Linked DNA regions of Homo sapiens: region 2 is linked to region 1. The links come from fine-mapping of genetic effects on gene expression. Tissue or cell type: memory regulatory T cells. Region 1 holds a variant in brackets; the other region holds the start of a gene. All regions are shown on one strand. Distances are between the middles of the regions.

Region 1 (5,374 bases):
TGACGGAAGCATTCATTGTTAGTTGCACTAAATTGCTTCATTTAATTCTTGCAATGGCCTTATGAGATCAGCGTCATTAAACACATTGTACAGATATTTTTTTAATGGGCCACAAACAAAGTAACTAACCAAAATCACAGCTGGCAAGTGATGGATTCAAACCCAGGTCTCTCCAATTCCAAAGTCCCTGCTCTAATCATAGCCTCTCTTCCATGCCTGGCTGTACCCAGAAGGGCAGACTTCAACCCAGAAACAACTGTGAATTGTGATGGAGAGATGGGCTCTAGTATCTGAACAACGAAATTATACTTATAGGCTACTTTCTTTTCACAGAACAAATGAGCTTTCTTGGCTTTTAACAAAATTATCATTGAAAACTACAAAATTAAGATCACCCATAATCCCAGCATTCAGAGGGTTAATCTTTTGTTTAAAATCCTTCCAAAAGTCTTAAATGTGTTTATATGCCTTTTGGAAAAAAAATTTATTTTATAATCATTTTGGATTTACAGAAAATTGACAAAGATAGTACAAAGAGTTCCTTCACTCAGCTTTGCCTAATGTGAACATTTTACATAACCACAGGACATCTGTCAAAACTAAGCAATTAACATTGGTACATTACTTTTAACTAAACTACAGATTTTATTCAGAGTACTCCTGTTTTTCCACCAATGTCTTTTTCTGTTCCAGGATATCACATTGTAAGGCACTCATATGGTTTTAAAACAAATTGATTGTACACAACAATATATCATGGACAGATTTCTTAATCAACAAATATAAGTCTATAGCATCACGCACCACTCTCTCGTCTTTTTTTCTTTTTTTCCTTTTTTTTTTTTGTGTGTGTGTGTGTGTGAGATGGAGTTTCGCTCTTGTTGCCCAGGCTGGAGTGCAACAGCGTGATCTCGGCTCACCGCAACCTTCATCTCCTGGGTTCAAGCGATTCTCCTGCCTCAGCCTCCCGAGTAGCTGGGACTACAGGCGTGCACCACCATGCCTGGCTAATTTTGTATTTTTAGTAGAGATGGGGTTTCTCCATGTTGATCAGGCTGGTCTTGAACTCCCGACCTCAGGTGATCCGCCCACCTCGGCCTCCCAAAGTGCTGGGATTACAGGCATGAGCCACCGTGCCCAGCCTATAGCACCACTTTCAATAGCTCCCTAATATTCCACTCTATGGATGGGGATACTCTGCTCCTGAAGGGCGTTTCCACAGTTTGCATTTTTCACTGTCTCATAAACACAGGATGGGCAAACTTATCAATGGTGTCCTCAGAAGAAATTTCTAGAAATGCACTGATAGCATGTCAAGAATATGCCATTCAAGGCTTTTCATTCATTTGGCTATTCTCCTCCAGAAAGCCTGAACCCATTTGCCTTACCACCAATAAATGAGTAGCTTTAACTTAAATTCATTTTGGACAATAAATGACTTCCCTGGTAAACTAACTTGTCCACTACCCTCGAAAGAAAAAGCTATGGGACTGGAAAGAGTTAAAGGACTTTCGAGACAGTCATGTTCCCCAAAACCAGACTGATGATTTCGAACAACCACCCAGAAATTAAAGTTCCATTCTCGTCAACTCAAGTTTGTCTCACTCTCCTCTCTGGGTCTGACAGCGAAAGAGATGTTCGGGCTTTTGGCATTTCAATCATGGAATTACTTTCGGGGTACAGGGGCAACCCCCACCGAGTTTAATTTCCTTCTCATCTCTCTGTAGTGTCTATTGAAACTCCCTAAAGGAAAAGCTTTGAGCAGGCTCCTGTGGTAACGCATGTAACAGGAAGGACAAAGGATTTGATAGTCAGCAAAGTTATAAGCCTGGTTTTTTTTTAATGGTGAAAGGAATAGGGGGAAGGAGAGAGATTATAAAACTGCTTGCATATCTAGAAATAGTTCAAATTGAGCTTGAACCAGGAACCTGCCCAGCATGCTAACTGCGGCCATGGTTCCTTGTCCAAAGGAAGCCCATATTTTATTTTGAGACTCCTGTTCTTTGGTGCAAAACACTTTGTCCCCATGCTTAGAAACACTATAAAACGCTATATATTTAGGATAACTGGGAAAAAAAGGCGGCTTGGAAGGTTCCGAGAAATTGAGCCCTACCCCATGCTGGGGAATTCTTCAGCGCCATTCTGGCTTGCAAAAAGAAAAAGAAAAAAAAAAAAGAAAAAAGAAAGAAAGAAAAAAAAAACAAGCTACTGGTCAGAGGGAATGCTCTTCCATGCCAAGCTCAGCTTGAATTAATACACAACACAACCTCTTAAAGAGGGGCACTGCTTTAAACTAAGAGTCTCTTCTGAAAATGTAACTGATTTGAAAAAGCAACAGGAAGTTGAGAATATTCTGGAAGGAAAAAGGCTGCAACCTGATACATTTTCTTCACCCCAGTGTTTGCAATCTTGTCACTCTGGTCAAGGCCACACCTTCAAGTCAGGAGGGATGAAGCCTTTGAAGCAAAGGATGCCAGTTTCACTTCCCCAAGCAAAACAATGCCCAGGACCCATCCTGAGCTTGCTGCCTCCCTAGGGCCTCTGTGGTCTGGTTGAGTGGCTGGTAGAACCCATTTCACTTTGAATTCTGCCCAGAAACCACAGGAGGATCAGTCCACGGAAGAGAAAAATCTAATTGGTTACAGGGACTTAGCATCTGCCCAGAAGACATTCATGCCCTTTGTCCTACATGGTTTCCCAGCCACCAGGGAGGAGAGGACTTCAGTCCAGGGACCACATATAGAACCTGATTACTTTCAGCTACAAGATGAATTTGTTCTGGGGATCTAAAGCACAGCATGGTGACAATAGTTAATAATACAACATGGCTCGCTTGAAATTTGCTAAAAGAGTAGATCTTAAGTGTCCTTACCCCCAACCCCACACACACGGTAATTATGTGGGGTGGTGAATGCACTAATTAATTTGATTGTGATTAATTTGATTGTAAA[A/G]CTTATTTCACAATGTATATCAAATCATCATGTTGCATACCATGAATACATAAATACAATTTTTATTAGTCAGCTGCACCTCAATAAAGCTGCAGAGACAAAAAAACAAAAGAGACGCTTTCTCTTGTTAGCTGATGGAGTATTGCGTTAAGTACAGGAGGAGCAAGTTACTGCAAAGAGAAACGAAAGCCTTGAAAACCAAAGCACTGTTATTTCCGCGTGTATCTTCCAGGGTGAAGCAAGCACATTTCTGTGAATGGGAGCTTTTTTAGACCTATTTGGAGATCTGTAAAATTTAGGTGATTCAACCTACCAACCTTAAATTGAAACCCAAGCCATTACAAGATCAGACTGTAGCGTTCTGAAGGAGTGTGTAAGTGTACGTATGTGGGCTTTGTCATGAAGCAGAATTTGAGAAAAGGGACCACACTGATGTGAGGCTTTACCAAAGCCCCGCGCTATAAGCAATACTCCAACAGTGTTGTGTGTGTTTGTTTTCTTTTAATTGGGAATAGTTATGCATACTCTGTAAGCACAAACTGTAAAAGAGGGAGGTTATACGAATAGACTTCCCTACTGTAAATAAAACACACTGTTGGGATCAAGTAAAACTTGCAACAAATTAAGCCTGACATTTAGGAATAACCATGGTGTAATTGAGCTACATAGAAATCCAACATAAAAGACAAACTTCCTAAGGAGGTGACTCAAGCCACACCTCTGGGGGCAGATAGTGGGAGGTGAGAGGGGACAGGGAAAGTAGCGAAGTCCCTGGAAGTCCTTCAGGAGGCTGAATCAGAGAGGCTTCAGCCAGGGCTCAAAGGCAGGCAGTGTGGATCCAGAATGCCACTCCTTGCTGTGTCGGAGGATTAAACAGAGTCATGTGATGCCTATTCTCAGGCCCAGAGGTGGCTTGGGAGCACCTGCTGGAAGGACAAGGTCGAGATCCTCAAATGTCCCCTTCTCTTGGTCTCCAGGTCATTGAACTTAGAGGAGTCACTGAGGGACAGCCACACTCCTCCTCCTTTAAAAACCACAAGCTGCCTTGCTACCTTCACATCACCTGTAATGCCCTCCAATTATATATTTATTTCATTTTAAAGAAAATATCAGCCAGGCACAGTGGCTCACGCCTGTAATCCCAGCACTTTGGGAGGCCAGGGCAGGCAGATCACTTGAGTTCAGGAGTTCAAGACCAGCCTGGCCAACATGGCGAATCCCTGTCTCTACTAAAACTACAAAAATTAACCGTGCATGGTGGCATGCGCCTGTAATCCCAGCTACCTGAAAGGCTGAGGCCAGAGAATTGCTTGAACCTGGGAGGTGGAAGTTGCAGTGAACCCAGATCAAGCCACTGCACTCCAGCCTGGGCGATACAGCGAGACTCCGTCCCCCTGACCAAAAAAAGAAAAAGAAAATATCTGTAAGAAAGCTGGAGTGCTTTCAATTTCTCACAACTTGATTGGGTTGGTTCTCTGTCTACTTTCCTAGCTGGGACTAATCACTGAAGCACCCAGGGTTATTTACATGAACACCAGCTTCTAGAAAACTCTGCCCCTCCTCCCTTAGGAGGCTCTCAGGTTCCCCTGCTGCATAGACCTGGGGCAGCCACCACATTTCCCATACCCTAGAGAAGAAAGAACAAAGGGCCATTTGCAACACGGGACACTTCAGGAGGGAAATCCAGGGGTGGCCTCAACCACTAAAGTAACATGAGAGCTCGATGCTCCCTAAAGAGCCCAGCAGAGGGGGGCAAGGAGAGTCACGGAAGTGGGTGGGTACCCCGTCCAAAGGCTGGTTCACAGTTTGCCCTGGCCCCTCCATCCTCCCACCAGAAGACAAGAGGATTGCTTTCACTCCTGGGTCATTCCTGCCAGCCCTCCCTACTGTGCCTACCTGGAGGTGGGCAGTGAGAGGGACAGGGTGGGAAAGCCTTGGCCCCAAGAGACTCTGGGCAGGGCCCTGGATGGACCACCCAAGCCATCCTGCTGCAGCAAACAGATGGTGTGGGCCGCCTGGGGACCGTGAAGTGCACTGCTCAGCTCTTATTCCCGAGAGGGATGTCTGTGTTCACAGGGCCTTATTCTACACACACCCAGCCTAGCAGCAGCTGGAGTCTACTAGGTGGCAAAAAAGTTAGCCATAAGAGTTTGGGGTCATTCATTCATTCACATCTTCAACATTTTTTTTTTTTTGAGACAGGATCTCACTCTGTCTCCCAGGCTGGAAGGCAGTGGCACAATCTCGGCTCACTGCAGCTGTGACCTCCTGGGCTCAAGCAATCCTCCCACCTCAGCCTCATTTTTTTTTTCTTTTTTTTTGAGATGGAGTCTCACTCTTGTTGCCCAGGCTGGAGTGCAGTGGTGCAATCTCGGCTCACTGCAAGCTCTGCCTCCCGGGTTCACGCCATTCTCCTGCCTCAG
Region 2 (5,374 bases), 720 kb after region 1:
ACTTTGGGATGCCGAGGCGGGTGGATCCCTTGAGCCCAGGAGTTCAAGACCAGCCTGGGCAATATAGTGAAACCCCACCTCTACCAAAAATACACAGATTAGCTGGGTGTGGTAGCTCACACCTGTGCTCCAGCTACTCAGGAGGCTGACGTGGGAGGATCACCTGAGCCTGGGAGGTTGAGGCTGCAGTGAGGCATGATGGGGCCACTGCACTCCAGCCTGGTCGACAGAGTGAGACTCTGTCAATCAATCAGTCAATCAATCAACCAATCAATCAATCAATAAGCAGGGACTCCCTCACTACACACTCACCTCTCTGCGGCTATCCAATCTACTGTGGGAGAGCCTGAAAACCCTTTTTTTTTTTTAGATGGAAGTTTCGCTCTTGTTGCTCAGGCTTGAGTGCAGTGATCTCCGCTCACTGCAACCTCCGCCTTCCAGGTTCAAGCGATTCTCCTGCCTTAGCCTCCCAAGTAGCTGGGATGAAGGTGCCCACCACCAGGCCCAACTAATTTTTTTGTATTTTTAGTAGAGACAGAGTTTCACCATGTTGGCCAGAGTGATCTCCAACTCCTGACCTCAGGTGATCCGCCCGCCTTGACTTCCCAAAGTGCTGGGATTACAGGCGTGAGCCACCGCACCCAGCCGAAAAACCACCGTCTTAGACCATCCTAGAGCTGGCAGAGCTGGCCCATCATACTCCATTAAACACTGGCAGGAAAAGCCTGTCCAAATCAAATAACTTCTTTAAAACATGTTGAGATTATTTGTGTACAAGATAAAAGGAATCTACTGCCAGTATAAATGCATTCAGATTAGTTATGTACAGTAGAATTTTTATTTGTAGGAAATATTTAGATTTTTTTTCAGATATGTGAGACACCCCAAGAGAATATCGTAAGTATAAACTGGGTTTGGGAAAGAATAATATGGCAGTCGGGTCAGATTCACTGTATCTAAAGATCTTGCTCCTAATTCCGATGGCATGTCTGTAATTGGGCCCCCAATTTCAAATTTAGTCCACTCTTCTTTTCTATACAAGGAGAGGCTTTATGCTCCACCTGCTACATGACCCAAATCAATAATCCAATGCAGCAGCTTGGGGAACCCTAGGTTTTCACTATGGGACCAAATAAACTCAGAATACTTTTGAGAACTTCAATCACATGAAATAATTATTTCAGAGAAGGATCCTTGTGGAAAGACCGTAACAGGAAGAGCATTCTGAGGTAACCTTTCCCAACTTTCTCCTCCACACATTCTTGCAGAGGAAATTAAGAGAGAGAAAAAAATTAAGAAATCCCAACTTAGTCCGGACTCTAGTAGTACATGTCAAGCACAGAACCCCTAATTTAAGACCCGCGTCCCGAGGCCAGGCTCCCTCGGGAAGGTAGCGAGTGCATCGCGATAAAATCTTTCCTCCCGCCTTCGGAGTCAAACGGCCCCGCAATCCAAACAGTTTAGAATCCAGCTTGTTCTTAATGCCACAGTCAAGAGAAGATCCATAACCCGCCTTGGTCATCTGCCCTTCTGTGTTCACAACCGTTCAGGGCACAAGTTCTTCGGTCTAACCGAATCTTTCCCTGCTGCGGGGTTAAGCCCAACCTTTCTTTCTGACCTTGGGGAGCCGGCAGCTCCCCGCCCGGTGCCCTCACAAAAGCCTTTGGGGGCTCCCTCTCCAAGATGAGACGTTTATCCCATCCCCCCACCCTCCTAAATTTAGGACAGGAAAGCTTTAGGGCCACCGTCTCTCTTCCGGGACCGATCACACTTCGTTCCAAATAGGAAAAGACAGGGGGGAAAAAAGATGGAGGGGCGGGAGACCTGGACCCCGGAGAGTCACCTTCCAGCTACCCACAGGAACCAAGCATCCGATCACTCGCGCATCCCTCTCCCCTCCTCCCCCGGCCCGCAGTGCACCCCACAGGGAGCCCCGCCGGGTCCACTCTTGCTCCGACCCCCATTTCGCGCGCCCCCTCGGCTCTATCTCCCAGATCCTCAGGCGACGAATGGAAAGGGGGTCCCTTCCCTCTCACCTGGGACGGAGGCGCTCGCTCATGGCAGCTGGCGGATGGAAGCTACGCGGCGCCGCTCCGCGAAGAGAGGGAACAGAGGGGGTTGTGTTTCGGCGGCCGCCACGCCCACCCCCTCGGGCCTTGGCTCTCGCAGCCGCTCGGGTGGACGCAGCCGGTGGCGAGTACCCCTCAGTCGGACCCGTACCACCACTACTTCCGGCGTCTGCTCCGCGCCCCCCCATGTCGCTGCCGCCGTGGTACCGCCCTCTCGCGGCTGCGCAGTGGCACCATCCCAACCGCACCGACTGGTAACCCCGCCCACGGGAAGAGGCGGGCTCGGAGCGGGAGGAGCGACTAGGAGCTTCTGGGAGAAAGGACCTCCCCTGGGGTGGCAGAAGCGCTCGCCTGTTCACAGCCAACGGAGGGTACGGTATAAAAGTCAAGCCAGGTTTCAAATAAATTCAATTATGTCATAATAATATCATACAAGTATTTGAGTTGAATCCGTGTAACATATTTTAAAACAGGCGGACCTATCCGGCAGTGGTGCAGACGGCCTGACGAGGTTCCTTGGCCGGGGGTTGGGCAGGGGCCTGGGGGGCTTCCCTGGGGGGCTTGTCGCCGGGGCCGCCTGGGCTTTCAGGTCTTCCGAGGTGAGGACGGTGCTCTGTGGGGAGCTTGCAAGGGCGGGTTTGTTTTCCGCGGCCCACGTTCTAAGTCTGGGGGAGACTCTCCTGAGCGGAGAGGGTAGGGAATCGGGTGCCGGGGCCGGCGGAGGGTCTTCCTGGAACCGCAGGAGGAAATCCTCGGTGGGGCTGCGGGAACGGCTGTCCCTGACCCAGGAGCTGCCGGGCCGACCCCATCCACTCCGCAGAATCAGAACAGCTGGCAGAATCAGAACAGCTTTCAGGGAAAGGAAGGGTGCGGGGAGGTGGGCAGGCTGGTAACGCAGCGGGAGGAGGGAAAGGCGGCTGGAGAGCGCCGGAGGTGAGGGTGAGGATTAGTGGAACTATTGAGGTCCTCCTTGAGCCCGGAGGCTGGGGAGGTCTTAACTCTCTGCTTTCCGGAACCTGTGTTTCTATTTGGTTCAGTATCGTGCCGCGTTTACTCACTGTGCATGCTGCCAAGTCACCTGTCTGATCGTGTCCTACACAGGCTGACATTCACGTTTCATTCTGCCACACTCGGGAACGGTGATCGGGGAAGCATGGGGATCCGGGAGAAGCACCCACAAAACTAGCATCCTCCTGGAGGAGCTCGGGTAAGAAAACAGACACCCACGTATAGACGTTATCGTGGGAATGTACCGGGATCTTTCAAGTAGGGTTGAGTGTGAGGTGGAGTGGAGGCAGAAACGTCTAGCAGGTGTCAAGCCCTTCCTAACGTTGTTAGCCGAAGGTCCATGGACTGGCTTCATTTGTGTGTATTATTGTAAACAAACAGTCTGTGGCTTTCATCCTGTTAGTGTGTACCTCCAAAGAAAGAAAGAATGATGGCTCACGCCTGTAATCCCAGCAGGCTGGGCGCGGTGGCTCACGCCTGTAGTCCCAGCACTTTGGGAGGCCGAGGCGGGTGGATCACCTGAGGTCAGGAGTTCAAGACCAGCCTGGCCAACATGGTGAAACCCCGTCTCTACTAAAAATACTAAAATTAGCTGGGCGTGGTGGCGCACGCCCTTAATCCCAGTAATCCCAGCCACGCGGGAGGCTGAGGCAGGAGAACCGTTTGAACCTGGGAGGCTGAGGTTGCTGTGAGCCGAGATCGCGCCACTGCACTCCAGCCTGAGTGATAGAGCAAGACTCCATCTCAAAAAAAAAAAGACCAAACAACAACAAAGTAAAAATGATTACTGTAATCTGTTGGCAGAAAACAGTTTTGTTTTGAAGGACTTCGTACAGGATAAGGTGGGTTGGTTGCTTTATTGAATGGATTGGTGAAGATTGTGTCTATTTTGTAAGTGGTTTCAGTCACCCTTTTTAATCTCTTTGGTAGTCAGAAGATATTATCAGTTGTAGTACTGAATAATATTTAAACGTTTATATCTAAAGAATTAAGTGAACAAATATTGTATGCCAGGCTCAGTGCTAGGTTTTTACATACAGCTGTGTGCAGGATAGATATGTTTCCTGCCCTCTGGAACTTTATAGAAAGAATAAGAGATGTAGAAAGGAAATAACTTTCAACTAAACATTGGAATTAAACATTTTCTTTTCTGGACTCTAAAGAATAACAGGTACAAATATACATGGTATAAATGTTTTTTTTTTAATTTTTTACATCGTATATGTTTAACAAAGATGTCAAACTAATTTGCCAGTAATCTGTTGTACTAGAAACTATAAGTAGGCCAGGCGTGGTGTCTCACGCCTGTAATCCCAGCACACTGGAAGGCCGAAGGCGGGCAGATCACGAAGTCAGGAGATTGAGACCATCCTGGCCAACATGGTGAAACCCCGTCTCTACTAAAAATACAAAAATTAGCCTGGCGTGGTGGCGCATGCCTGTAGTCCCAGCTCCTCGGGATGCTGAGGCAGGACAATAGCTTGAACCTGGGAAATGGAGGTTTCAGTGAGCCGACACTGCACTCCGGCCTGGTGACAGAGTGAGACTCTGTCTCAAAAAAAAAAAAAAAAAAGTATAAGTGAAAAACAGGACTGTGTCCTTGGCCATGTATATATTTGTGCATTATGCATACATTTTATGTATATCTGTGTGTGTGTGTGTGTGTATATGCATATTACTAAATGTTAGTAGAGCTTCATTTCTCATTCTTTGATTGTGGTAATTCTAATATTTTCTTCTTACACCCTAGTGCATATTCTATTTATCACTTTGGAAACCTCTGCTGTAATCAGTAACCTTTGGCTGGGCGTGGGCGTGGTAGCTCGCGCCTGTAATCTCAGCACTTTAGGGGGCTGAGGTGGGTGGATTGCCAGAGCTCAGGAGTTCGAGACCAGTCTGGGTAACACGGACACGGTGAAACCCCGTCTTTACTAAAATACAAAAAATTAGTCAGGCGTGGTGGCATGCCCCTGTAGTCCCAACTACTTGGGAGGCTGAGACGAGAATTGCTTGAACCTGGGAGGCGGAGTTTGCAGTGAGCAGATATTGTGCCACTGCACTCCAGCCTGGGTGACAGAGTGAGACTCTGTTTCCAAAATAAATAAATAAATAAATAACCTTTGGTTCCTGGCCTAAGTTTTTTATTCTTTACCATTCTGTCCTTGAATAACGTGTTTAAGGGTTTTTAAACAATTTTTTATACTCATATAATGACTAGTTGACTTGCTGTAACCGTAAGTAGCAAACATCTAGCTTGTTCCAAATGAATTTAAAAGATACAACACATAAGTAAAATA

Evidence for each region. PIP is the estimated chance that this variant, and not a neighbour inherited with it, causes the effect. A credible set is the group of variants that fine-mapping cannot tell apart.
Region 2: VCF1 starts here. The variant in region 1 is the best candidate, but not a certain one, in a credible set for the expression of VCF1 in memory regulatory T cells (Schmiedel 2018, PIP 0.60).

What each region holds. Positions count from the first base shown.
Region 1 is chr17:72,508,263-72,513,636 of GRCh38, forward strand. All of the region lies in intron 1 of LINC00673 (long intergenic non-protein coding RNA 673), which reads right to left. Among named protein-coding and RNA genes, the nearest start is that of LINC00673, 82 kb to the right of the region's middle. RefSeq lists an enhancer at 2,579-2,708. The variant A/G (reference allele first, on the strand shown) is at 2,952.
Region 2 is chr17:73,230,050-73,235,423 of GRCh38, forward strand. VCF1 (VCP nuclear cofactor family member 1) reads right to left here and starts at 2,345. Exons shown (of 4, transcript NM_001098832.2): 1 at 2,037-2,345. The coding sequence starts at 2,257. It overlaps MTNAP1 (mitochondrial nucleoid associated protein 1), which reads left to right and starts at 2,384. Exons shown (of 6, transcript NM_001351264.2): 1 at 2,384-2,440; 2 at 3,171-3,276. RefSeq lists an enhancer at 1,062-1,838.